Linked DNA regions of Homo sapiens: all the other regions are linked to region 3. The links come from fine-mapping of genetic effects on gene expression. A gene starts in region 3. Each other region holds a variant in brackets. All regions are shown on one strand. Distances are from middle to middle.

Region 1 (8,182 bases), 53 kb before region 3:
CAACAAAACTCCACGTCAGGCTGTGAAGACACAGAGAGTCTGGGCCAGGACTGACTGATTCCCTCCAGACTGCGACCCTCAAGTTCTGGAAGTTCCAGCTGCCAGAACTAAAACTCTGCCTTCTGTGTGAGAAAGCACCATAAATGCCAATGCCTGCAGTAAATGCCAATGCCAGCAAGTCCTTAGCTAGTGTGAGGAAGAACTTAAGAAAGAAGATGGTGGGCTTCAGACCAGAACCAGGGTTTGGCTCAAGTGTGCAGAGGCTGTGGCCTTCCTGAAGGAAAAAGGCATCTATGTGGAACAGCAGAGCCACAAGGGCACAAGAAGATGATTTGGGGTGTCAGAACAGGGAGAATAAAGAAAAGGAGACAAAACCAGCACCTGAGGGGCTTGGAGAAATATTTACTCACACATTCAATAGGGATTTGCCAAACTAGGAACTGGGGACTCAATAGATACCAAAACAGACAATAAGAAGGCTGACAGAGGCCGGGCAGGTCGTGCATGCCTGTAATCCCAGGATCTTGGGAGGCCAAGGATGAAGGATCACTTGAGGCCAAAAGTTCAAAACCAGGCCTGGCACTATAATGAGATTTCATCTCTACAAAAAATTTAGAAGTAATTAGCCAGGAGGTGTGATGTGTGTGCCTGTAGTCCCAGCAACTCGGGAGGCTGAAGCAAGAGGATCACTTGTGCCCAGGAGTTTGAGGCCACAGTGAGCTGCAATTATGCCACTACACCATTGCACTCCAGCCTGGGCTACAAAGCAAGACCCTGTCACAAACAAACAAACAAACAAACAAACAAAGGCTGATAGGCAAGACAGCAAGGAAGAAGAGAGCAGCATCAAGGTAAATGACAGCATTTCCAGTTTTACAAACGCTGTTTTACAGAAGATGGTCACGGAAAGACTCTCCTATAAGGTGATCTATGAGCAGTAAATGAAGGAGTGAGCTATGCAGATATCTGGAGTAAGAGCATTAGGCAGCATCCAGACAGGGAAGAGCAGGTGTAAAGGTTGTGAGGCAGTGCATGCAGCTTAAAGAAGTGATTAGGAGGCTTAGGTTCCTTCTTTTTTTAACTCATTCATTCAACCAACCTTCCTTCCCTCCTTCCCTCCCTCTTTCCCTTCCTTCCTTCCTTCCTTCCAGCAGTGACTACCACTGTGCCCAATGGACACTAGGTAGCAAGGATGGAGAGGTCCCTGTCATGAAGCTCAGTGTGGCTGGGAGGATAGGATGAGGAGGATGAAAGCTAATACACAGTGCTATCAGCCAGCCTGTACATGGATGACCCACTTGCTCTTTACAACACCAATGAGGTAGATCCTATTACTGTCCCCATTTACAGATGAGAAACTGAGGCACAGAAAGGCTTGATACCACATCTTGGGTGAGGTCATCCTGCTAGTCCGTGGCAAAGCAGGGACTCAAGCCCAGTGGTCTAGCTACCAGGCCTGTGCTAGGCGCCCACTCTCCACTTTTCTCATGGGTGGTGCATGCTATGGTGAAGAGCAACAACAGGGGGATGTGGGGACAGAGAGAACAGCTGACCCAGCCCAAGGTACTAGGGAAAGCTTCACAGTAGAGAGGCTACTGAGCGAGGATGTATGAGACAAATCAAATCCCAATCCACACATAATCTGTTGTATTTCATGACACCAAACCTTTGCTCCTGCTGTTCCCTACACATGCAGCCTTGGTCCACAGTGGTGTGCTGGTAAATGTTTAACAACTGGTTCTCGGGGGAAGGTGTATGCATGTATATAGGCACATAAATCTATTGCAGATTTACTGATATAAAGGATTTATAGCACACAATTTACAAATAATAAAAAATACAATATTCTTTCTTATAAATTCCATATAGCCAATTGATTCTCACCAAATGCTTTCATTTGTTTTTGCCCTACTCTTGTACCCACAGCCAAGGAGTATGGTTCCAACATGAACACTGGCTGAGAGTTTTGTTTACATGAACAAGAAACATAAAAAAGAAACAACAAAGACTTACGTTGGAACTTCAGGTGAGCAACTTGGCTGAATCAGATAATGGTTTTCAAATACTGGAAGAGTATTTTCTCAATTTTTTGTGCTACTCACAAGATAACGGTTACAGATACAACCTACTTTTAAGTTTAATCCTCATTGTTAACATTTTCCCATCACTGCCTAGATTACATGTAGACAATATCTATAAGACAACAAATCAAGCCCCGGATTGCTTGAGACCAGGGAGGTTGAGGCTGCAGTGAGCTGTGATCACACCACTGTACCCCAGCCTGGGTGACAGAGTAAGACCCTATCTCAAAAAAAAAAAAAGCAAGCCCTGATTGATGGTGTTTGCCAATTTCCATGGTGTAAATACCCCCATCATAGCCAATTTCAACCTACCAATCTAATGCCCCTGAAAGTGAAGCTGAGCAGAGATGCGCAGTAGGAACACATCATTACGGGGTATTCACACTGCAGGTATGAGATATACACAACCTCAAGAGCACAGATAATAAAATATACAAAAATGAGTAAAAAATACATTTTAAGTACAATATACTGTTATATTTCTATAATTCAGTTAATTCGAAGTTCATGTAATTTGTAAATAATGGTTGTGTTTAACAACCAGCTTGGGCATGTCCTATAAACTGAACAGTCGGCTCTGGCACCCCACTGCCCATCTCTTCCCAGTGTCGTGGTCCAGCTGGAGTGCCCGCTCACCAGGGGAGCCTACCATGGCACATGGTGCTTTGCTGATAACAGGTATGACCTCACCTTGTGTTACACTCTAATGTCATTATGTTGAATGTGTCTGTATCCCTGTGAGTTCCCCTGGGTGCATAGGTTAGGGCATCCAGGGGACTGCCCAAGAAAATTTCCTGGAACAAATGTGAGGCTGAGAAGGTGATGCTGTCACCAGCCTTGCTGCTTCAACAGGTGGAGTCCAGAGAGGAGGAATGCAGATGGAGACATGAGGCAGGGAAAAGCTCACGTGTCCTTGACTGGGACCAAATATTTCCCAGAAGAATATAATAAAAATAGCTCTTTGGGGGCCGGGCGTGGTGGCTCACACCTGTAATCCAAGCACTTTGGGAGGCCGAGGCGGGCGGATCACGAGGTCAGGAGATCGAGACCATCCTGGCTAACACGGTGAAACCCCGTCTCTACTAATAATACAAAATAATTAGCCAGGCGTGGTGGCGGGCACCTGAGGTCCCAGCTACTTGGCAGGCTGAGGCAGGAGAATGGTGTGAACCCGGGAGGAGGAGCTTGCAGTGAGCCGAGATCGCGCCACTGCACTCCAGCATGGGTGACAGAGCAAGCCTCCGTCTCAAAAAAAAAAAAGCTCTTCGGGGATGGATTGCAGCCCCCGGCCTATAACAATCATATACCCACAGGACAAAGGGCTCGCTGCCTCAGGACCCAGGAACTCTCAACAGGAAAACTAAGCTTTATGAACCAGAGAAATTATTCTACAAAGAAAGTGCTATTGGCCCTCTTCTTTTTTCATCCCAATTAGGACTCTGCAAACCATTTTTAATAATGAACAAGAGGGAAAGAGAGTGGGTACAAACAGTCCATACAGACATCCACTGTCTCCACTCTTTTTTGGAAAACAATGGGGCACAAATACCTAACTGAATCTCTAGGGGCTTCAATTCCTGAAAACCTCAGAGGTGGGAGAATTCACGAGTGTGGAACTCAAGACTCCACATAGAAAATATGGTTGGGGAGGAATGAGTTTGCTGGTGAATCTCTGAGGCCTTGATAAATGATCACACTGGATATCACAAAACAATAAAAGCAGCCCCCAAATAAGGAGGACACCAGTGGCAGCATGCATTTATCAACTTAGTACAGACTAGAGCCTGTGCAAGTGATTCCAACTTATCTTGCTCAGCAGAACCTGCTCAGCACCCTACTCCTCAGCAGCTGCAGCGAACTGCCCGCAAACGCATTTGTGAGGGCCACGAACACAATCAGATTTTCCTCCCTGCTGACTTATACTCCTCGATTTGCACCTGCCTGGACCCCAGGTCTCACCAAAGCTTCCTCCCTCTTTCCCCCATCCCAGCTCCTACAGGCCTCTAGAGGGCAGTTTAAAAGGATGGGATTCCTTTCTTCATCTGCCTTTATCTTTCCTGGGGCCTGACTGCAAAGCCTCTGCTCCTGCCCTACCACCCACTCCATCTTCCCTCATCATTCCCGCATGGGGGCTGCAGAGGCTGTAATTCACAAGGCAGGTTCCAAGGCTCTCCTGGTTGCAGCAGACATCAACTGCTTTTGCTTGCCCTCACCCATCCCCCTTCTCCTGGAAACAGTATTTCCAAATTTTCCTTTGAGGAACTATTTCTCTCCCACTTCCAATACACATATGTCAGTAGGTTGGACCCCAACTCCGCTCCAAAGCAGACAACTGACCGAAGGGGCATGGCCAATCACCACATTCCACCCCTGTGGACACAGAGATAGTCAAGGGAGGGCAACTGACCTAGGTCATTATAAATACAGCCAAGCCAATGGCCTTTACACTTGGGATTTTGCTGGACCTACTGAGAAAGTAGCACTCGTTCTGCTGGAGTTGAAAAATTGGTGGGAAGACAAAAGTATGCCTGAAGCTGCTTGCCACCACTTGGAGAGAACCTACCTGAGACCTGGAAACACTCCCAAAGCACCTG[A/G]ATTCAGGCATGGTTGAAGCACACCCTAGACACTCCCATCATATGAGCCAATGAAATGTCAGGTTTCATTTTTTTCCCTTGAACCAGTGTGAGTGGAGTTTCTCTCACTCACAACTGAAAGAATCCTGACAGGTACAGGGTCCAGGGAAAGTAAGTTCGTGTTGGAGAAGCACTTCCATGGGTGTATGTTTGTGCATGTAAACAAAAATCACCTATACTCAAAAACTCTTTGAGGGAGCTTACCATACCTTTAGCATAGTGAAGACAAAAATACAAGGTACAATCAGAGAAGAGGAGGGACATGTTTGTCGTAAATCTTCTTAAAACCTGACCTAGGATGGTTATAGCAATTAAGGTCACCTTGCAGTTCCTTGCTGCCAGGTCATCATGGTGAGAGGAATAGGTGGGGTTTCAGGCCCTCAGGGGACTCACCCTCATCTGTGATGGTGCCACTGCTGGAGCCCCCACTGCTCTTGGACTGCCGATGGGATGACGAGGAAGACACTGAGGACTCTGCAGTGTGCCCTTTGGGTGAGGGGGAGGGCGTGAGGGTTGGAGAGGTGCTCTTGGAGGTAGTGGAAGTTCCAGATGGAGGCCTTTTGCTGGTCTCCAATTTCTGCTGAACAGAGTAAGACAAATACATAAGCCATCACCTGTAGGGTAGAAATGAGGAAAACAAGACACCCACAACAGGGAACATGGGTGGTATTTGATTCAACATGATGTTTAACCAAGACTATGAAATCTACTTTTAAAAACATGGAAAGCAGAAATATCATTATCAGAACAATTAGAGGAAAATGCAACCCTGGAGCAGAGATAGGATAAGATCAAATAGCTGCATATTATGAGTCAGGAACCACCCCGCTCCCCACCCCGCCCCGCTCCCCCAATCCCAGTCCTGCCCTCCAGCTACTTGCATTGTGGCTTTGGCCAAGCCCCCCGAGCTCTCTGGGCCTCAGTTAACCAGCTGTAAAATGAAAGTCTGGCTTAGGGAGGCACAAAGTCTCTTTCTGCTCTTGATGCTCCTTCATCTACACCAAAGAACACGTATTCTTCCCTTTTTCTCATTGGTTAGCTTTAAAACAAAGGCTTTTTACATTAAAATAATTCTAGACGTATAGAAGAGCTGCACAGAGAGAACAGAGTTCCCACATACCCCTCACACAGCTTCCTGATATTAATATCTACATCGTCACAGTATAATGATCAAAACTAACAAGCTGACATTGACACAACACTATTAACTAAACTACAGACTTCACTCTGTTTCCCTGGCTGTTTTGCTTATGTCCTTATGCTGGTCCAAGATCTGATCCAGGAACCCACACTGCATGGAGCTGTGCTGTATCTCTGTAGGCTCCTCTGACCTGTGACAGCGCTGTCTTTCCTTGTCTTTCATGACCCTGACACTTGGGAAATCTTGGTCAGGTATTTTGAAGAATGCACATCATTTTGGGATTATCTTAAGTTTTCCCATAATTAGATGTGCTTGTGAATGTAGGGGGCAATGAAGTGATATGCCCATTCAGTGCATCGTTATGCAGAGAGGACACAGTATCTGATTACTGGTGATGGTAACCTTCATCACTTACATGAGGGGATGTCTGCTGGGTTTCTCCATTATAAAGTCACTATTTTTCTTTTTAATATTATTTGGGCTGGGCATGGTGGCTCATGCCTGTAATCCCAGCACTTTGGGAGGCTGAGGCAGGTGGATCACAAGGTCAAGAGTTCAAGAGCAGCCTAGCCAATATGGTGAAACCCCATCTCTACTAAAAAATACAAAAATTAGCCAAGTGTGGTGGTGGGTGCCTGTAGTCCTAGCTACTTGGGAGGCTGAGGCAGGAGAATCACTTGAACCCGGGAGGCAGAGGTTGCAGTGAGCCGAGATCGCACCACTGCACTCCAGCCTGGGTGACAAAGCGAGACTCTGTCTCAAAATAAATAAATAAATAAATAAATAAATATACAAAATAAAATATCCTTTGGGAGAAGTTTTTGGGTAAATATTTATTAAGGTTCTGCCCATTAACTTTGCATTCATTGGTGAGTCTCACTGAGGCAAGTGTTACAGTGGTGTTCCCATGGTGATTTTCTATTGCCCTCCTTCCTTCCACATTTATTATCTGTAATACTTCTATAAGGAAGAGTTGTTCTTTCTCTCCTATTTATTTGCTCAATCATTTATTCCTATCAGTACAGGCTCATGGGTATTTTTTAAGCTCTGGGCCATAATCCAATATTACTGTTATTTTGTAGCTCATTATTACAGCTTTGGCCATTGTGAGATCTTTCGGGTTGGCTCCTGTACCCTTTTGACATGCGCCATCTTTCTTTTTTTTTTTTTTTGTCTTTCTTTTTAAAAGTATTTGCCTACTTTCTGACACCACAAAATATTCTAAGCTCATCTTATGTTTCTGCTGACCCAGTACTAGAATAAAACACTTCTCCAAAGCTTTCCAAGGTCCCTTTTATTAGAGAATGGTATTTAGAAACCAAAATCTGGGTACTAGGTTGCTCACTGGTACTGGGATGTCACTGCTTCTAGGTCCTCAAAGTGGACAGAGCAAAGACATATATACACTAACCGATGTATACACACATAGCCATATCTACTTTTATATCTACTAACTCTGTGTGTGTGCAACTCTCTGTGTATTTAAAAGCATGCACTCATACTGATTCATACCGATACCTCTGACTTCAACCCAACATCCACAGAGTTTGTTCTAGCATTTTTCCTTTGATTCTGTCTCTGACAGTAAAAACTTTGCTACTTATTTATTCAATCCTGGTATATATGTTAAGTGTACATGTACACAAAAAAATTTTTAGCCCATATCCTGGTAAGGATAACAGAATTGTTAGCCCATATCCTGGTAAGAAAAAAAATATCAACTAGAGTACAGTACTTGTATACAGTACTTTTTGTCTTTAGCCTAATATCCACTCAACATACGATTTTCTCCTCCACCTCCTACAATGTGGTTAGGTCATTCATTTGAATACACTTAGATCTTCTGTCATAGTTTGCATTCTATCTTTGGTTCCTGGTTGATTTTGTTTTTTTTAATTTGCATACAGTAAAAAATAGCTCTGTTGTACACAATTCCATGGGATCTGAAAAACACATAGTGTTATGTATCCACCAAGAGGGTACCATACAGAAGAGTTCCATCATCCTCTGAATGTCCTTAAGTGGTCCTTTTCTAGCTAATCCCTCCTCCTAATCCCAAGCCATAAAAACAGCGCTCTATGTTCCATCCTGTGACTAGAGACAAAAAAATAAACTATTTTTCCTCTATTCTTACCCCACAACAATCAACACAGAATGTGTCTGTAACCAAAGGTATGGAGCTTTCTTCCCCTACACACCAATCAATTAATCAGTTCTGCAGTGGACACCAGCTAAGTATCCTCCAATTCAAGTCTGACATGATCTATCCAAACACAGCATCAAATCCCACAGGTTGAGGGCTCAGTCCCAGGAGACTGCCCCCACTT
Region 2 (8,166 bases), 23 kb after region 3:
GTTTGCCTCCCTAGAGCACCTGAAGGAGCGCTTGGCCAATGAGCTTTCGGGACTGCCCAAGGTGCGCCTGATCCGCGCCAACAAGAGAGAGGGCCTGGTGCGAGCCCGGCTGCTGGGGGCGTCTGCGGCGAGGGGCGATGTTCTGACCTTCCTGGACTGTCACTGTGAGTGCCACGAAGGGTGGCTGGAGCCGCTGCTGCAGAGGTACGTGAGCCGCCCACCATGGGAGAGACAGCATGTTACCTGGAGTAGGTAGCATGAGGAACAGACTCATCACGTCACTTGAGGGTTAACGGGTTGCCTGGGCTCAGCTGCTTCTCTGTCACTGGGCAGGAGAGCAGTCCCTGCTTAGTTCGGCTGTTGAGACCGTTAAATGATTTAGTGCATGGCAAGTGCCTGGGAGTGCCAGCTGGAGAAGGCCCTGTGTCACTGTTTGCTTTTATTATTCCTTCTTTTTTCTTTTTATTTTTTGAGACAGAGTTTCACTCTTGTTGCCCAGGCTGGAGTGTAATGGTGTGATCTCGGCTCACCGCACCCTCTGCCTCCCGGGATCAAGCGATTCTCCTCCTCACTCCTCCTCAGCCTCCGGAGTAGCTGGGATTACAGGCATGCACCACCACACCTGGCTAATTTTATATTTTTTTGTAGAGATGGGGTTTCACTGCTTTGGTCAGGCTGGTCTCAAACTCCTGACCTCAAACTCCTGACGTCAGGCGTGAGCCACCACACCGGCCTTATTATTCCTTTTTATCCGGGCTTGTTGCAGAAAACCGAGGAAGTATCATCAACCAAGAACATTTTAAAAAATCCTCAGTCAAATAGAATGGCACTCCTAAAGAATACACATTTTGATGTATTTCTTTCAAGCAGGGCTGACTTAACCCTTACACCCAGGAGGAACAATGCCTAGGGCCCATGAAACTGGAAGGAACCCAGATAAATGTTATGAATTTCTTTTAAAATCAGAAGGGAAAAATGAATATCATAATAATGGGTATGTAATAATGAATCTAGCATGGATTGTATTTGTCTTTATACCAGTATAGTCATAAAATATGCTTTTTAATATGTCTGGTTGTTATAGAGGAAGGGTCCCTGAAAGTCATAATGTAACCCTGTTCTCAAGGCCATTGTCCTTGCTGTTCCACGGCATCTCACTCTCACCCTCCTACCTTCCCCCCTCAAGAAGCCACCATCTACTGGGGCCCACTTTTTGTTCCCTTCTGTCTCTTTCCTCCCCATGCTCTGCCTCGTCTCTCTGCCCTTTCTGTTTCTGCATCATAGAAGTCAGGAGCTGGGCTTGCCAACCAGAAGCTCCCCAGGTGGGAGAGGAAGGAAGGGATCTTTGCTTGGCCTCCCCGCTGTGGAGCAGGCAAAGGGCTGGAGGGGCAGGGTCTCTGCAGCTGGGGAACTGCTTCCCCGCAGATGCCAACTCCATGGTTGTTAGGGTTGTCTGAAAGAGCTGGGGACCCACTTGCCTTCCTTCCTGGGTGTGACCCAGCTGCCCCCTGCCCTGCCACTTCCTACTGTCCTGGCTTCTTGTCAGCTGCAGGTTCTATAGCTGTCTCTTTCTCCTCCTCAGCTCTGATGAGCTTTCCTAGCAGCAGATTCGAGGCTCCTCTGGCCTGTGATGGAGCTGGAGATTAGAGCACAGTTATGGCCGAGTGCTCCCTCTGGAACCCAGACCAATGGGCTCCCCTTCCTTCGTTCCCCCACTGCACTCATAGATGGCCACCTCTACACAGGTCTGAAATCATGGGGAGAGGACATTTCTTTCTCTGCAGCTGATGGATTAATGCTTTTAGAATTCCTCTTCATCCCACCCTTTGGACATGGGCCAGCCGCCTCCTTGCTGCATGCCTGTGGAAGAGGGGATTTTCCACCTCGGTTGTCTGTTAGAAATACCTGGGAAACTTTAAAAAATTTATATTTTAATTTTTAATTGTTGTGGGTAAATAGTAGGTGTATATATTTATGGGGTACATGAGATATTTTGATACAGGCATGCAATGCATAATAATCACATCAGAGGAAATGGGATATCCATCCCTTCAAGCATTTATCTTTGTGTTACTAATAATCCACTCATACTCTTTTTTTCTTTTTTTTTTAGACAGAGTCTCACTCTGTCACCCAGGCTGGAGGGCAGTGGCGTGATCTTGGCTCACTGCAACCTCCGCCTCCCAAGTTCAAGTGATTCTCCTGCCTCAGCTTCCTGAGTAGCTGGGACTACAGGTGCGTGCCACCGCACCTGGCTAGTTTTTGTATTTTTAGTAGGGACAGAGTTTCACGATGTTGGCCAGGCTGGTCTCGAACTCCTAACCTCAGTGATCCACCCACCTCAGCCTCCCAAAGTGCTGGGATTACAGGCGTGAGCCACTGCACCTGGCCCAGTCATACTCTTAGTAATTTTTTTTATCTATCTATCTATCTATCTATCTATCTATCTATCTATCTATCTATCTATCTGAGACAGAGTCTCGCTCTGTTGCCCAGGCTAGAGTACAGTAGGGTGATCTCGGCTCACTGCAGCCTCTGCCTCCCAGGTTCAAGTGATTCTCCTGGCTCAGCCTCCTGAGTAGCTGGGATTACAGGCATGCACTACCATGCCAGGCTAATTTTTGCATTTTTAGTAGAGATGGGGTTTCACCATGTTGGCCAGGCTGGTGTAAAACTCCTGACCTCAAGTGATTTGCCCGTCTCAGCCTTCCAAAGTGCTGGGATTACAGGCATGAACCACCACGCCCAGCCAGTTATTTTTAAATGTACAATTAAATTATTTTTTTTTTTTACTATAGTCACTCTGTTGTGCTAGCAACTGGTACGTCTTATTCATTCTTTCTATTTTTTTGTACCCATTAACCATCCCCACTCCCCCAACCAACTACCCTTCCCAGTCTCTGGTAACCATCCTTCTGCTCTCTGTCTCCATGAGTTCAATTGTTTTAAGTTTTAGCTCCCACAAATAAGTGAAAACATGCAAACTTTGTCTTTTTGTGCCTTGCTTATTTCACCTAACGTAATGACCTCCAGTTCCATCCATGTTGTTGCAAATGACAGCATCTCATTCTTTTTTACGGATGAATAGTACTCTATTGTGAGTATATGTACCACATATCCTTTATCCATTCATCTGTTGATGGACACTTCGGTTGCTTCCCAATCTTGGTTATTGTGAATAGTGCTGCAACAAACATGAGAGTGCAGATATATTTTCGATACACTGACTTCCTTTCTTTTGGATATGTACGTAGGAGTAGAATTGCAGGATCATATGGTAGCTCTATTTTTAGTTTTTTGAGGAACCTTCAAACTGTTCTCCATAGAGGTTGTACTAATTTACATTCCCACCAACGGTGTGTGAGGGTTCAACCTGGGGAGCTTTTTAAACACACCAATGCCTGGTCCCATTTGGATCTAACTCTTGGGGCTGGGGCCTCGGCTTCTGCATGTTTCAAAAGCTCCCCAGGGGACTTTGGTGTGCACGAGCATTGGGACACATCAGACTGTGGACTCTCCCTAAGGTGGCCCCAGACAGGAGTGGTAACCCTTTCCATCCAGGGGCTTTTGGAAATGTGGGAGGGTATTCTTGGTTGTCATGTCAACCAGGTAGGGCTCCTGGCATTTTGTGTATCAGGGAGGCCAAGTATCCTGCAGATCAGCCCTGTTCAGTGGAGAATGGTTCTGGCCCAGATGCCAATAGCATCCCTGTGGGTCCTGCACATTCTCCAGCCACGACTGGGAGTCCTATACTCCAATGCTGGTACAGCATTCCCCTAGTTTTCCCCTCCTTGTAAAAATTAGGCTTTCTGTGGTTCCAGCCAGCTTGATCACAAGCCATCAGTTCCTGGGGGAGCTGGCCTTTGCCAGGGGCCAGCTAGAACTTGCCCAGCAGGTCTGATGTTGGCCCTTTCAACCTTTTAAATAATGCCCTCAATTGCTTTAAATAAGCGGATGTTGGTGGATACCTAGTATGCAACTTCCTCAATTTGGGGAACTCACAGATCTAAGACCCTGTCTCACGCAACCTGTTCTGAACAGTGCAATTTCCCGATAGTTGTAATTCTTACCCCAGAGTGGTATTTCTAATATCCCCTCTGACTTTCTGGTGTCATTCTAAGGACACCGAAAGCTCAAGTCTGGTTGATCTCTGTTGCACTGTCCTGTGTGGCAGGACTCTTAGGATTTTTAGGTCTCAAATTCCAGACAACGTCCCCCAAAATGTACTCAAGGAAATCTAGTGTTCACACGTGGTCTAGTCTCAGTCCATCTTTCCTGGTGTAGTGGCAAATGCAAAGAAACACGGCCTGGAAGCATGCTGAGGGATGGCCAGATTTGTAATAATGTGGAGAGAACCGTTGAAGCCAACACACAGGCTGATACCTGCAAAAGGAAATTATAGCATTTTTCACTATATGTAATATTTCACAATAACAAACATTAAAATAAAAAAATAGCAATAGTTTCAGGTTCTCTGCCAGCTATCTTAAAAACATTTTCCCAGGAAGTCCTCACATTAACCCTCTGAATGGATATTATAATTCCAGTGTTACCACTGAGGCAATAGGCTCTGAAGTTAGGTGACTTGGCTAATGTCACACAACAAATAAATAGCAGGATTAGAATTTATATTCTAATTCCAAAGCTGACCCTTTGGTCTGGGTGCACCTTTGTTCTTAGGAGATAAGTATTTCTTGATGTTAAGGTGTTTCATTGTGATTAAACCTCTTGCACTTCTGAGAAATTGAAATCATAGAGCGTTTGGTCAGAATGTCCATGGATAGAATCAGAGCATATTAAAGTCATGGGACTTTTTGTTTTAAAGCCCTCCGTGGCCCCCAGATCTCCCCCATGGTGGTCACCTGCCAGGGCTCTGACACGGCTGCAGACACCTGGAATAAGAGAAGCAGGTCTTTCTCAGATGTTCCTCCCTCTTATTGGAAGGAAGACAAGAATTCACCCTTGAATTTCCCA[A/G]TTGTCTTCCTGCTGCCCGTCTGCATAGGAGAGACGGATGGATGTCTTGGGTGCTTTCAGGATCCATGAAGAGGAGTCGGCAGTGGTGTGCCCGGTGATTGATGTGATCGACTGGAACACCTTCGAATACCTGGGGAACTCCGGGGAGCCCCAGATCGGCGGTTTCGACTGGAGGCTGGTGTTCACGTGGCACACAGTTCCTGAGAGGGAGAGGATACGGATGCAATCCCCCGTCGATGTCATCAGGTCAGGAGCTGACTTCTGGGTGACTTGTTTTTTAAGCATGCCTCATTGAATCTGGCTGACCTGTGAGCGGAGGCCCTCGGGAGGAATGGTTAGCTGTCAGCTTAACTACCTCCCCTCTTCCCACTTTTTTGCCCAGAGTATTTGTTTATTTTTATTAAACGTGTCTGCTACACATGTCAATTTTATATCGGTATATTTTATTTATTTAATTTTTAAATTGTGGTAAAATATACATCATAGAGAATTTACCATTTTAACCATTTTGAAGTATGCAATTTTAGGCTGAGCATGGTGGCTCATGCCTATAATCCCAGTACTTTGGGAAGCCAAGGTGGGAGGATTGCTTGAGTCCAGGAGTTTGAGACCAGCCTGGGCAACATAGCAAGAACCTATCTCTACAAAAAAATAAAAATTAGCTGAGCATGCTAGTGTGTATCTGTAGGCCTAGCTAGCTGGAAGGCTGAGATAGGAGGATCGCTTGAGTCAAGGAGTTCAAGGCTTTAGTGAGCTATGATCACGCAATTGTACTGCAGCCGGGCGATAGAGTGACACCCTGTCTCTATAAAAAAATAAATAAATAAAACAAAGCATGCAATTTTAGTGGCATCGAGCACATTCACGGTATTGTGCAAACATGATCTTTACCTATTTCCAGGAATTTTTCATCATCCCACACAGAAAATATCCCCACTAAGCAATAACTTCCCATTCTCCCCTTCCCAGCCCCTGGGAACCTCTGTTCTTTCAGGCGCCCCATGTGAGTGGAATCATACAATATTTGTCCTTTTGTACTTGGCTTCTTTGACTTATCATCATGTTTTCAAGTTTCCTAGAGAACATCATTCCTTGTGATGGCTGAGTAATATTCCTTTGTACATATATGCTACATTTTGTTTATCCATTCTTCTGTTGGTGGACACTTGGGTTGTCCTTTGGTTATTGTTAAATAATGCTGCTATGAACATCGGTGTACTTTTATCTGCTTGAGTCCCTGTTTTCCATTCTTTTGGGTATACACCTAGGAGTGGGATTGCTGGTCATATGCTCATTCTTGAGGAAACATCTTTAGGCCCCTTTGACCTGGGGTGTGGGTGGATCCATGGCAGGTGGAGGAGTCTGCTCTGGCCAGTGGGTGAGTCAAGCTCTGAGTAGAATGGGCCCAAGGGAGGCTCAGCAGCTCTCATTCTGGAGGTTTTGAAGTGATAGCCTGGCTTCTTCCTCCCCTTCCAAGTTCAGAAGCAAGTGGGAGACAGATGTGGGAGTTGGGCAGGAGGAGGTCAGGACTTCAGCCTCACCGCTGGTGTGTTGAACCGGAAGTAGGCTCTGAGTTTTGCGTCCACATTTGGCAGTTGGGCTTCTGAATTCTTTCACCAGAGTCCTGACCTTAAGATGACCCGCTGCTGGCAGGAGTGGAGCAAGCAAGGAGAGTGTCCAGAGATAAGGCTGGAGAGATGGGCGGGGCCAAGGGAAGGGGTTTGGACTTGACCCTGAGCAGGTAGAAGCCACTGAAGGGATCGGAGCAGGAAGTGACCTGAGCATGTGCTGCGTGCCATGTGGTGAGGGCCCTGGGGGGACCGTTGTAGGCAGGGATACCATTAGGAGGCTCTGCAGTCTTCCAGGTCAGAAACAATGGTTCAGGAGATGGTGGGCACTGTGGATTCCAGAGATGTTAAGATGGAAGAATTGGAAGAAATTGAGTGGGAATTGGGGAAGGAAGGAATTAAGAATGGCACCCAGGCTTCTGTAGGAGCCCTTAGTGAGAACATCCTGCTCAATCCCTCACTGAATAGGTTTGGAAACTGAGACACAGAGCAGGAGGCTCTAATCTAGGCTACTTAGGCAGCCTGTCATGAATTCATGGGGGTCCATGAATTCTAATTGCCCCGTTACCCCACATGCTCAGGGCACCTATCCTCCCCATCCCATAATATCCCTGTGCCTCAGTTATCTCATCTGTATAATAGGTACCAGCATATCCACCCTGCTTATTTCCTAGATTTTTAGGATAAACACACGTGAAGGTGCTTTGTAGTCTAGAACCTTCCCTTCCACTGGGGATGTTGCTGTTGTCTTCTCAGTTGGCCCCATGCTTGGAGTCCAGGGCAGGCCCCGATGCTGCAGGATGTTAACATTTTCAGTGGTTGCGCTCTCAATGTTCTCTTTCCCTATTTTTTTTTTCAAGTTGGGGTCTCGCTTTGTCACCCAGGCTGGAGTGCAGTGGCATGATCTCAGCTCTCTGCAACCTCTGCCTCCTGGATTCAAGTGATTCTCCTGCCTCAGCCTCCTGAGTAGCTGGGATTATAGCTGTGGGCCACCACACCCAGCTAATTTTTGCATTTTTTTAGTAGAGACAGGTTTTCGCCATATTAACCAGGCTGGTCTTGAACTCCTGACCTCAGGAGATCTGCCCGCCTCAGCCTCCCAAAGTGCTGGGATTACAGGTATGAGCCACCGTGCCCAGCCCTTTCCCTATTTCTGAATTCATCCTTTTGCCTGTGCAACTCTGGGACGTGCTGACCTTACAGTGTTCTGCCGTGTAGGCTGGAAGCCGTGGGCCGTTTCTGGTTAGTGCTGGCTTCCAGATAAACCTGGTGGTGGGTGGCGGGAAACAAGGCTGGCTGAAAAAGCAGCCTGAGGCTGGCTAGCTGGGTCCTAGTGGAGGAAACCACTCAAGAGGACCTGGCCCTCGGGGCACTTTCAGATGCCAGAGTTGCCTTTAGGGCCTTCTGCATACTGGCCTCTGAGTGGCATCTGTGAGTGCCTGCCTTGTGAGATCACACCTCCTCAGATGACCATGGCCTGGAGCCTGCCTTCTTCTCGGAACGTGGTCTCTTGCTTCTCTCTTCTCCTTGCTCTCTATGCTTCTAAATGTCCCTGGATTTCTCCCACCCTTAAGCCTTTGCTCATGCTGGAGAACCATTCCATTTCCCTTCTTCTTCTTGGCTA
Region 3 (8,182 bases):
TCTCTTTTCTTTACAATGCATCTTGAACACATGTGTATGTTAAATGCCTACAACTAACTCATGCTTGCAAATAGCACTGTGGTATATTATGGTATTGTACGGATGTGCAATATTTTATTTTATAATCTCTTGATGGAAATTTGGATTGTTTCCAACTTTTTGCTTTTATATACAATACTGCCATAAGCTTCCTTGTATGCATATCTTTTGAGCACTTACGAGTCTATGTTTGTTGGATAGATTCCTAGATGTGGAATTGCAAAATCAAAAAGATGTTAATATTAACATTTCTAATAAATGTTGCCTAATTGCTTTCCAAAAGGTTATACTAGTTTGCATTCCTACCAACAGTGGATGAGAGTGTTTTTTCACATCCTTGCCAACACTGGAATTAATAGCCATTTTCATTTTTGCCAGTCTGATAGGTGAAAAAATATTTCAGGGTAGGTTTATTTTGTATGTATTTTAGAGAGATCGAGCATATTTTCATACTTTTATAAACTATTTATATCCTTTTGGGTGGGAACTGTCTATTTAAATCCTTTGACCATTTTTATTTCTGTTTGTTCTCTTTATTTCCCTATTGATTCACATACTGGGTAAATGTCATCTGCAAATATCTCTTTCTGACTTGCCTTTTGTTTCTGGACTTTGTATTATACTGGAAGCCTTACAGAATTCAAAATTTTTATATAGTCACATTTAGAAATATTTTCCATATGGTCTCTGGTTTTTCTCATTCAATACTTTTATAATTAAATTCCTTCCCTTCCCTTCCTTCCTTCCTTCCTTTTTTTGCTTATTTACTGTGGCATCTTCAGATCATTTGGAATTTATTTTGATGTAAAGTGTGATGTTGGGACTTGATTTGAATTTTTTCCAAATGGTTATCAAGTTGTCCCAATTATTACTTGAATTAGGCACATGTTCCCCACTAATATTTGAAATACCACATCTACCATAGATCATATTAAACTCTAAAAGGAATGTAATAACTCCTATGAAGAGAGCTAATATGACAAATTAAAAGCATCTTCTAGAGATATCTACTTGTTGGTGAGCAGCCGATGACATAACATGGTACTGTTAGTGAACAGATAAGCCCCCTAAAAATAGCAATAAACCCAAGGGCTTTACCTCTGTTGAAAAGATGCTAGATTTCCAACAAGCTCCCAGGTGGTACCAATGCTTCTGGTCTAAATATCATACTTCACTCAGCAAGGTGCTGGACATCTTCCCTTTGCCTTACTGACACTCTCTCCACTCTGTTTTGTGCCCCGGGAGGCTGACTGTGCAGACTGTATCACTCAATCTTCTCAACAACCCTGTTCAGGTGGTGCTATCATTAGATCACCATTTAATAGATGAGCAAATTGAGCCGAGATAAGTAAAGCAACTTGCCTGAGGTCACACTGCAATTCGTGATGGGGCTGGGTTGAGCTCAGGCAAGTGGGCTCCAAGGTTGTGTTCCGACCTCCTAAGCTAAGCTGCCTTTGCATCTCATTGCAGCCTGCCCAACAGTGAGTGGTGTGGTGGGAAATCCTGGACTGTGAGTCAGGAGACCCAGATACAAATCCTCCCTCTACCGCTTGCATGTTGTGTAACCTTGGGCAAGTTGCTTCACTTCTTGAGCCTACATATTCTCATCTGTCAACCTTGCAAGGTTGTCATAGGGTGAAATGAGAAAGTACATGAAAAAGAAAGTCCAGCAGTTTACAGCACACAGTGTGTGCTCAGTAAACAATAGCTTTTATCTGTTACCTGGGGCTTAAGTCCATGTCTTGTAAGGCCTAATTGCATTTCTCTTTTCTCTGTATCTGAACCTCTATTGAGAAGCATTCCAATTTGGCAAGCGGATCCAAGACATTATGAATTGTAATCCTTGTCTGTTTTCTAATCTGACCGCAGATCTTAAATGTGTTGGGTGTCTGAACAGAGGCCAAAGGGCTCAGGTCCAGACCTACCTAACACAACCGCCTTCTGGCATTAACCAGCAGCCTCCATTCTGCGTGGGAAGCAGGCGGGGCCCTGAGCACTGTGGGAAGAGCCACTTCCCTCTAGTCTAATATTAGCAGCAGGTTGTCCTGAGTGGGAGCTGCTTTGCATGGTTCATCCCAAAACCCACCCCCCTCCTGCAACCTGAGGGAGATTTCCTCTGGGGATACCAGTAGCCAAAGGCTGTATGAAGACAACAGCAAGTCAGATTCTACCTCTACCTGAGCCGCCAAGTTCAAGGTCCTCTCCCCACCCTGTGTCTCAGACCCCGCATTTATCAATGAGATAATTGGACCAGATTTGTGCTTTTTAAACTTTCTGGGCTTCTGGTCTCCTTGAGAATATTTGATAAAAAGCTTTGGACCAACTTCCCATGGTAAAACAAACAACAACAAATAGAGCTTACACTCTATCCTTCTACAGGGGATACAGAATGATTCTTTTCCCTGAGCTAGACACCAGCAGAGGGAGTTCCAGATTAATTTAAGATATGATTTGAAATCTCTGCTATCACTTTTACATTCAGATATCTGTGTAGACATTACTTCATCAGAGAAGCTTTCCAAAACCCCCAAACTAGATCAAGTTCTACTATTCTAAGCCCTTTTAGCGCCCTGTAATTCTTCTTCAAAATACTTAACACAATTCTAATTATCTTTTTAATATTTGTCTACTCCATTAGACTTACTTCGTCCCTGGCAGCTCAAGGCTCCCACAGCAGTGATCTCATGAACAGGGCGGCAGCTTCATGGCCTTTTTTGGTTGTTGTTTAATAGAAACAGGATCTCGCTTTGTCATCCAGGCTGCAGCGCAGTGGCGCATAGTTCACGGTAACCTCCAATTCCTGGGCTCACACAATCCTCCTGCTTCAGCATCCTGAGTAGCTGGCACTATAGGCACGTGCCACCATGCATGGCTAATTCTGAAATTTTTCTGTAGAGATGGGAGTCTTGCTATGTTGACCAGTCTCGTTTTAAGCTCCTGGCTTCAAGTGATCCTCCTATCTCGGCCTGGGATTACAGGTGTGAACTATCATGTACAGCCTTCATGGCCTTTTGCTCCTAGCCTCAGAGGTCACAGAGCTATCACGAGGCGAGCCAGGCGAGGGTTTGCTATTCAAGGACTCCAAAGAGTATGGCAGAGGCTGGGCCTGCAGAAGTCAGTGGGGCAGCGTGGTGTCTGTTGATCTCATCGCACCTCCATCTCCTCATCTGTAAAAGGGAGCTCGTAATCCTAGTTGATGGTTGTTTTATTGGACTGTGTAAAGATCAGATGAGATAATGGCAGTAGAATTCATAACACCCTGCAGGGTGTATTCAGCCAACACTTAGCGCCTACAATATGCCAGGCGCTAAGGGTTTTACCACCACTATCTCTTTAATAATGCACCATAGCCCAAGAAGGAAGATGCAAGTCTCAGCCAGCCCACTTGAAGACCCTGCCGAAATGAGCCACCCCGGGGGCTGCGCTTGGGCTGGCGCGGGGCTGGACGGAAAGGGGGCGGCGCGCAGGTGGGGCGGGCCGGGGGCGGGGCGGCACGGCGGTTCCGGGATCCGGGTCCTGGCCTCCACCGCCGCCTTGGGGCGCGCAGATCGCTGGCTGCAGTTGGCGGGCGCATGTGGGGGCGCACGGCGCGGCGGCGCTGCCCGCGGGAACTGCGGCGCGGCCGGGAGGCGCTGTTGGTGCTCCTGGCGCTACTGGCGTTGGCCGGGCTGGGCTCGGTGCTGCGGGCGCAGCGTGGGGCCGGGGCCGGGGCTGCCGAGCCGGGACCCCCGCGCACCCCGCGCCCCGGGCGGCGCGAGCCGGTCATGCCGCGGCCGCCGGTGCCGGCGAACGCGCTGGGCGCGCGGGGCGAGGCGGTGCGGCTGCAGCTGCAGGGCGAGGAGCTGCGGCTGCAGGAGGAGAGCGTGCGGCTGCACCAGATTAACATCTACCTCAGCGACCGCATCTCACTGCACCGCCGCCTGCCCGAGCGCTGGAACCCGCTGTGAGTGCACAGCTCTGGGGAGGAAGCCCGCCCTCAGAGCCCCGGGCCTCAGTTTCTCCATCAGAGCAGTGGCAGGGCGGGGAGCTGGGGTCTCCAGGATGGCGCGTCTTATTGAGTCTTTCTCCGAAGACGATAGTGTAAGAGCTCACATGGGGGCGGGGAGGCAAGAAAGTAAAAAAGACGAAAGTAGAAAAAAAATTACCAGAAATTGGCAAGTCTGTTAGTGATCTCTTAGCTCCCTTCTCCTTGAGAAGTTATCATCTCCCTGAAAAGGTGAGGGTCAGGGCTAAGCAGAAGGGTTTAAGGCGAGGACCCCCCAGCACCCAAAGGACAACCCCGCTCTGCCCGCCTCGCAGTGCCTCCGCGAAACTGACAACTCCTCCGGGCGGTGACCGGCTCCATTCATTCTCTGTGTGTGCCAGGGCCTAAGGGACAAACAAGATGCGAGGGAGCGCCCCACAGGTGAAGCGAAAGATGGCTGTAAGGCCCCCTCAGCGCTAGAAAGCCTCCTTGTGCTCTCCCTGGGCATTGGATTTCTGAGCTTTGGGTGGAGGAAGGCGGGAAGGGGCACGGGGTGGGAAGGGCTCCTTCTGGCCGTGATCCACCCCAGCTCACTCCTGTGGGTGGTGCTGGACTGGAGCCAGCGTGGTCAGAGGCCTAGTTCCTGTTGGAGCTACTGGCTGGGCAGGTTGCGCCCCTGCCTAGGTGGGGATCCAGGGCACACGCTGGCAGCAGGAGGAAGGACAGGTGGCTGCTGCCACCTTTGCCGCTGGGCCTCCCGGGCTCTCACTTTTTCTTCGAAGTGTCAGGGATCTTCCAAGTCCTTTTTTGAGCCCCTTCCTTACAGACTTTGAGGAAAAGAGGACTCAGAGAGGGGGTTCCCATTGGAGCTGGTGGTGGCAGCCTGCCGTGTGCACCAGGCACCTGCCACTCCTCTCCCCTTCAAGCCATTCCTGCTTTACAGGTGTGGAAATAGGTTCGGAAAGGATAGGTGACCCACCCAAGGCCCCTCAGCTGGAATGTGGTAGGACTGGTCTGGAGGGACTATGGCCCTTCTGGCCCACTTGGCACCATGCTGATCTCAGGATTTTAGGGGCCTGCTCCATGGTACCTTGGCCAGAGAGACCATGAATGATGGAATGAGGATGCCCCACCTCTGCCCCACTGTTTCCACTGTCTTCCCTGTTTTGGGGATCTCCTCATGCCTAGCCTCATGCTTCTGCCTGAGGCATTTTTCACTGTTAGTCTTTTTGAATAAAACTTTGTTGGGATTGATAGTAGTTCCTCCACTCACCAGCCTAACGCATGTTTAGCTCCTCGAAACCCCGAGGGTGCCCGCTGAGGCAAGGTGGAGGGGAAGCTTTCAGGTTATACCCAGCTTCAGATTAAATCCAGCCCAGGGGAGATAAAATCCTGGTTCTTTTGCTCGTCACTTCTGTGATCTCTGGCAAGCTGCTTAGCCTCTCAGAGCCTTGGTTTCCCTTCGTTTGCGAAATAGGAAACTCATAAAAGTGAGTCTCCATGCATTCTACATAAAAGTGAGTGGAAAGAACACAACTTAGGAATTAATAAAGCATCAATACCTGGGAGCACACTGTGTGCTTAAATCTTAGTTTTTTCACCTTTCCCTGTTGCCAAGAATGTACTCAAGAGGTTGCTTTTGAGAGTCATCCAGGGATTGGTTGTAGTTTTTCTTTCCTGGATCCAACTTCCTTTATTGTCGCAGGTTGTGAATATCTCTTTGAAACACTGTGGACAATCTGTGGGGCTTATGGTAACCTGTCTCCATGGTGACGCAGCTGCCCTGTGTCCTCTCAGGATTTGCTTGTAGATCCTGCTGTTGCATTGACCCTGGAAGTTAAGCCAAACCCAGCATGATAAGGAGTGTGAATGCCTCCTGCTTCTAATTCCTGCAGCAAGGCCTGTTGGGTTATTCTTACCCAGCCAGAGAGAAAGGTGAGCCTGAGCTGTGTGGGTCTCTGTTGGGCCAGGCTTTGAGATGTAACTTCAGAGTGGTCAGTAGGGTCAGGGTATTTTGTGGCATCTCACTTTTATTACAGTTCATCCAGGAGCTAATCAGGGTCTTGAGATTTTGCCTGAGAAACCTGAATGGCAGATCATAAGTTCACAGTGTGGGTATGGGGTTCTCTGCGAGTCTAATAAACAGAGGGATAATGAGGGTCCTTGAATGTTGCAGGAGGGAGGGCCCTGAGGGAGGAGCATCTAGTCTAACCAGAGAGGAAAAGCCACACCCCCAGGTCACATAGCACATCTCAGGCAGAGCCACAGTCCATATCTGTTACTCGTTCCTCCCTTTTTGGGTGGGGATGATTATTTCTATGTTTATTTTAATTATGAAAGCAATGCATATTCACTCTAGAAATGTTGGCATGCACAGAGAAACAGAAAAGGAAAAAAATGAAAATCCCCAATAAACCTACCACTCAGGGAGAACCATTGTTAACATTTTGCTGTGCCTCCTAGACTTTTAATGAAAGTCTTTACTCTGCAGTGCCTTTTATCAGAGGAAAGGAGTTGGGAATGACTAAGGGACCACTTGGTTTGACTCTTCCTGGTGTCAGCAGGGTGTGGCACTGTGTCTGCCTTCTTGAAGAAGGCCAGACCACTAAAAAGACATTTTAGAGTACTGGTCCTAATTCTGTGAGAGCCAGTATAGACCTGGGCCCCTCTATGAATCTAATAATTTACATGCCAGTGGATTCGAGTATAGTTTTGTTAGTTACAGCACTGAATTGAAGAGGAGGCTAATGATGACTAGGAATCCTTCCTTGCATGGTAACATAGTAAGTATTAATATATATTAATATAAATAAGTATAGTAAGTAAGTCAGTAAGCATAGTAGTATAGTATGACTAGCATCTCAGCAAAGAAGGTGAATTTTTACTCTGAGATGATAGCGGGTCAAAGTGGGGAGACAGATAGTTGGGTGTGTGGCCCTGGGGAACTTTAAAAAATATATTGATGCCAGGAATCTTCCCCAAAACAATGAAATCAGAATATCTGTGGCTAGGACCTAGGCTGAATCTGATATGCAACCACGGGTGAAAGCTACTGGCCTAGAGCCTGTGGATTTCTGAGTCAGAAGATTTAGGGTGAGTGTTTTGGAGGGTGTGGAGAATACCAGAACTAGAGAAAGTAAGGATTAATAACAGGTCAAATGTAGTTCAAGCCAGTGATGACATCATAGTCAACTGAGTGGTGTGTCACAAGGAAATGGTTATTAGTAATGTTGTACCAAAATTTGCAAAAAGTTTTAGTTTCCATAGAATACGGGGAACTTGAGATGATCACTGTAACATCATTCTCATTTGCATTCTGATATTTAGTAGAAGAGAGAGTGGAGTAACAGACAGTGCCCTCAGGGCTGGACATTTCTTCAGGTCTATCTATGACAGGAATCCCATATGTGTGAACACCAGCCATTCTCTACCAGGGCAGAAGAACTGTGAACCATTGGTCAAGGAAAGCATGGTGTTTTTATTTCTTGACTTGCTCTGGTTTTAGGCTTGTTAATACTATAATTGCAGATGTGTGTCTGAGTTCAGGGGTCAGGATTTGGGTGCTGGGATGGCAAAGAGTCTCGAAGTCGTTCTTTTTTTTTTTTTTTTTGAGATGGAGTCTTGCTATGTTGCCCAGGCTGGAGTACAATGGTGCGATCTTGGCTCACTGCAACCTCCACCTCCTGGGTTCAAGCCATTCTCCTGCCTCAGCCTCCCGAGTAGCTGGGATTATAGGCAAGCGCCACCACACCCAGCTAATTTTTGTATTTTTAGTAGACACGGGGTTTCACTATGTTGGCCAGGCTGGTCTCAGACTCCTGACCTCAGGAGATCTGCCCGTGTTGGCCTCCCAAAGTGCTGGGATTATAGGCGTGAGCCACCATGCCCAGCCTCAAAGTGGTTCTAAACAGGTAATTAAGCAAAAGTATGTCTTGCTAGGGTTGCAGAAGGGAGTAGGACATTAGACTGATGTTTATTTTGTTTCCCCAACAAAGTTGTGGATATTTTATGAATTCTTATTAGATCCATCTTGAGAACATCAGAGTGGCATTCTTTCTTGAGTCAGTACTCCAGTACTTCAAATCCACAGAACATGTTCAATTTCGGTTAGTATTTTCCTGATACCTTTTTCTTTCACTCATTCTGTGTCCATATGTTTTTGGTGTGTCTTTGAATAGT

Evidence for each region. PIP is the estimated chance that this variant, and not a neighbour inherited with it, causes the effect.
Region 1: its variant is fine-mapped to the expression of GALNT12 in whole blood (TOPMed, PIP above 0.99).
Region 2: its variant is fine-mapped to the expression of GALNT12 in whole blood (TOPMed, PIP above 0.99). The same link has a PIP of 0.9 or more in blood mononuclear cells.

The regions. Positions count from the first base shown.
Region 1 is chr9:98,751,313-98,759,494 of GRCh38, forward strand. It overlaps ANKS6 (ankyrin repeat and sterile alpha motif domain containing 6), which reads right to left. Exons shown (of 15, transcript NM_173551.5): 12 at 5,108-5,291. Among named protein-coding and RNA genes, the nearest start is that of ANKS6, 41 kb to the right of the region's middle. The variant A/G (reference allele first, on the strand shown) is at 4,676.
Region 2 is chr9:98,826,738-98,834,903 of GRCh38, forward strand. GALNT12 (polypeptide N-acetylgalactosaminyltransferase 12) reads left to right here. Exons shown (of 10, transcript NM_024642.5): 3 at 15-204; 4 at 5,035-5,220. Among named protein-coding and RNA genes, the nearest start is that of GALNT12, 23 kb to the left of the region's middle. The variant A/G (reference allele first, on the strand shown) is at 4,975.
Region 3 is chr9:98,804,088-98,812,269 of GRCh38, forward strand. GALNT12 (polypeptide N-acetylgalactosaminyltransferase 12) reads left to right here and starts at 3,583. Exons shown (of 10, transcript NM_024642.5): 1 at 3,583-3,982. The coding sequence starts at 3,612. It overlaps LOC124902229 (a long non-coding RNA gene), which reads right to left and starts at 3,493. Exons shown (of 2, transcript XR_007061689.1): 1 at 2,684-3,493. RefSeq lists silencers at 3,465-3,554, 3,655-3,724.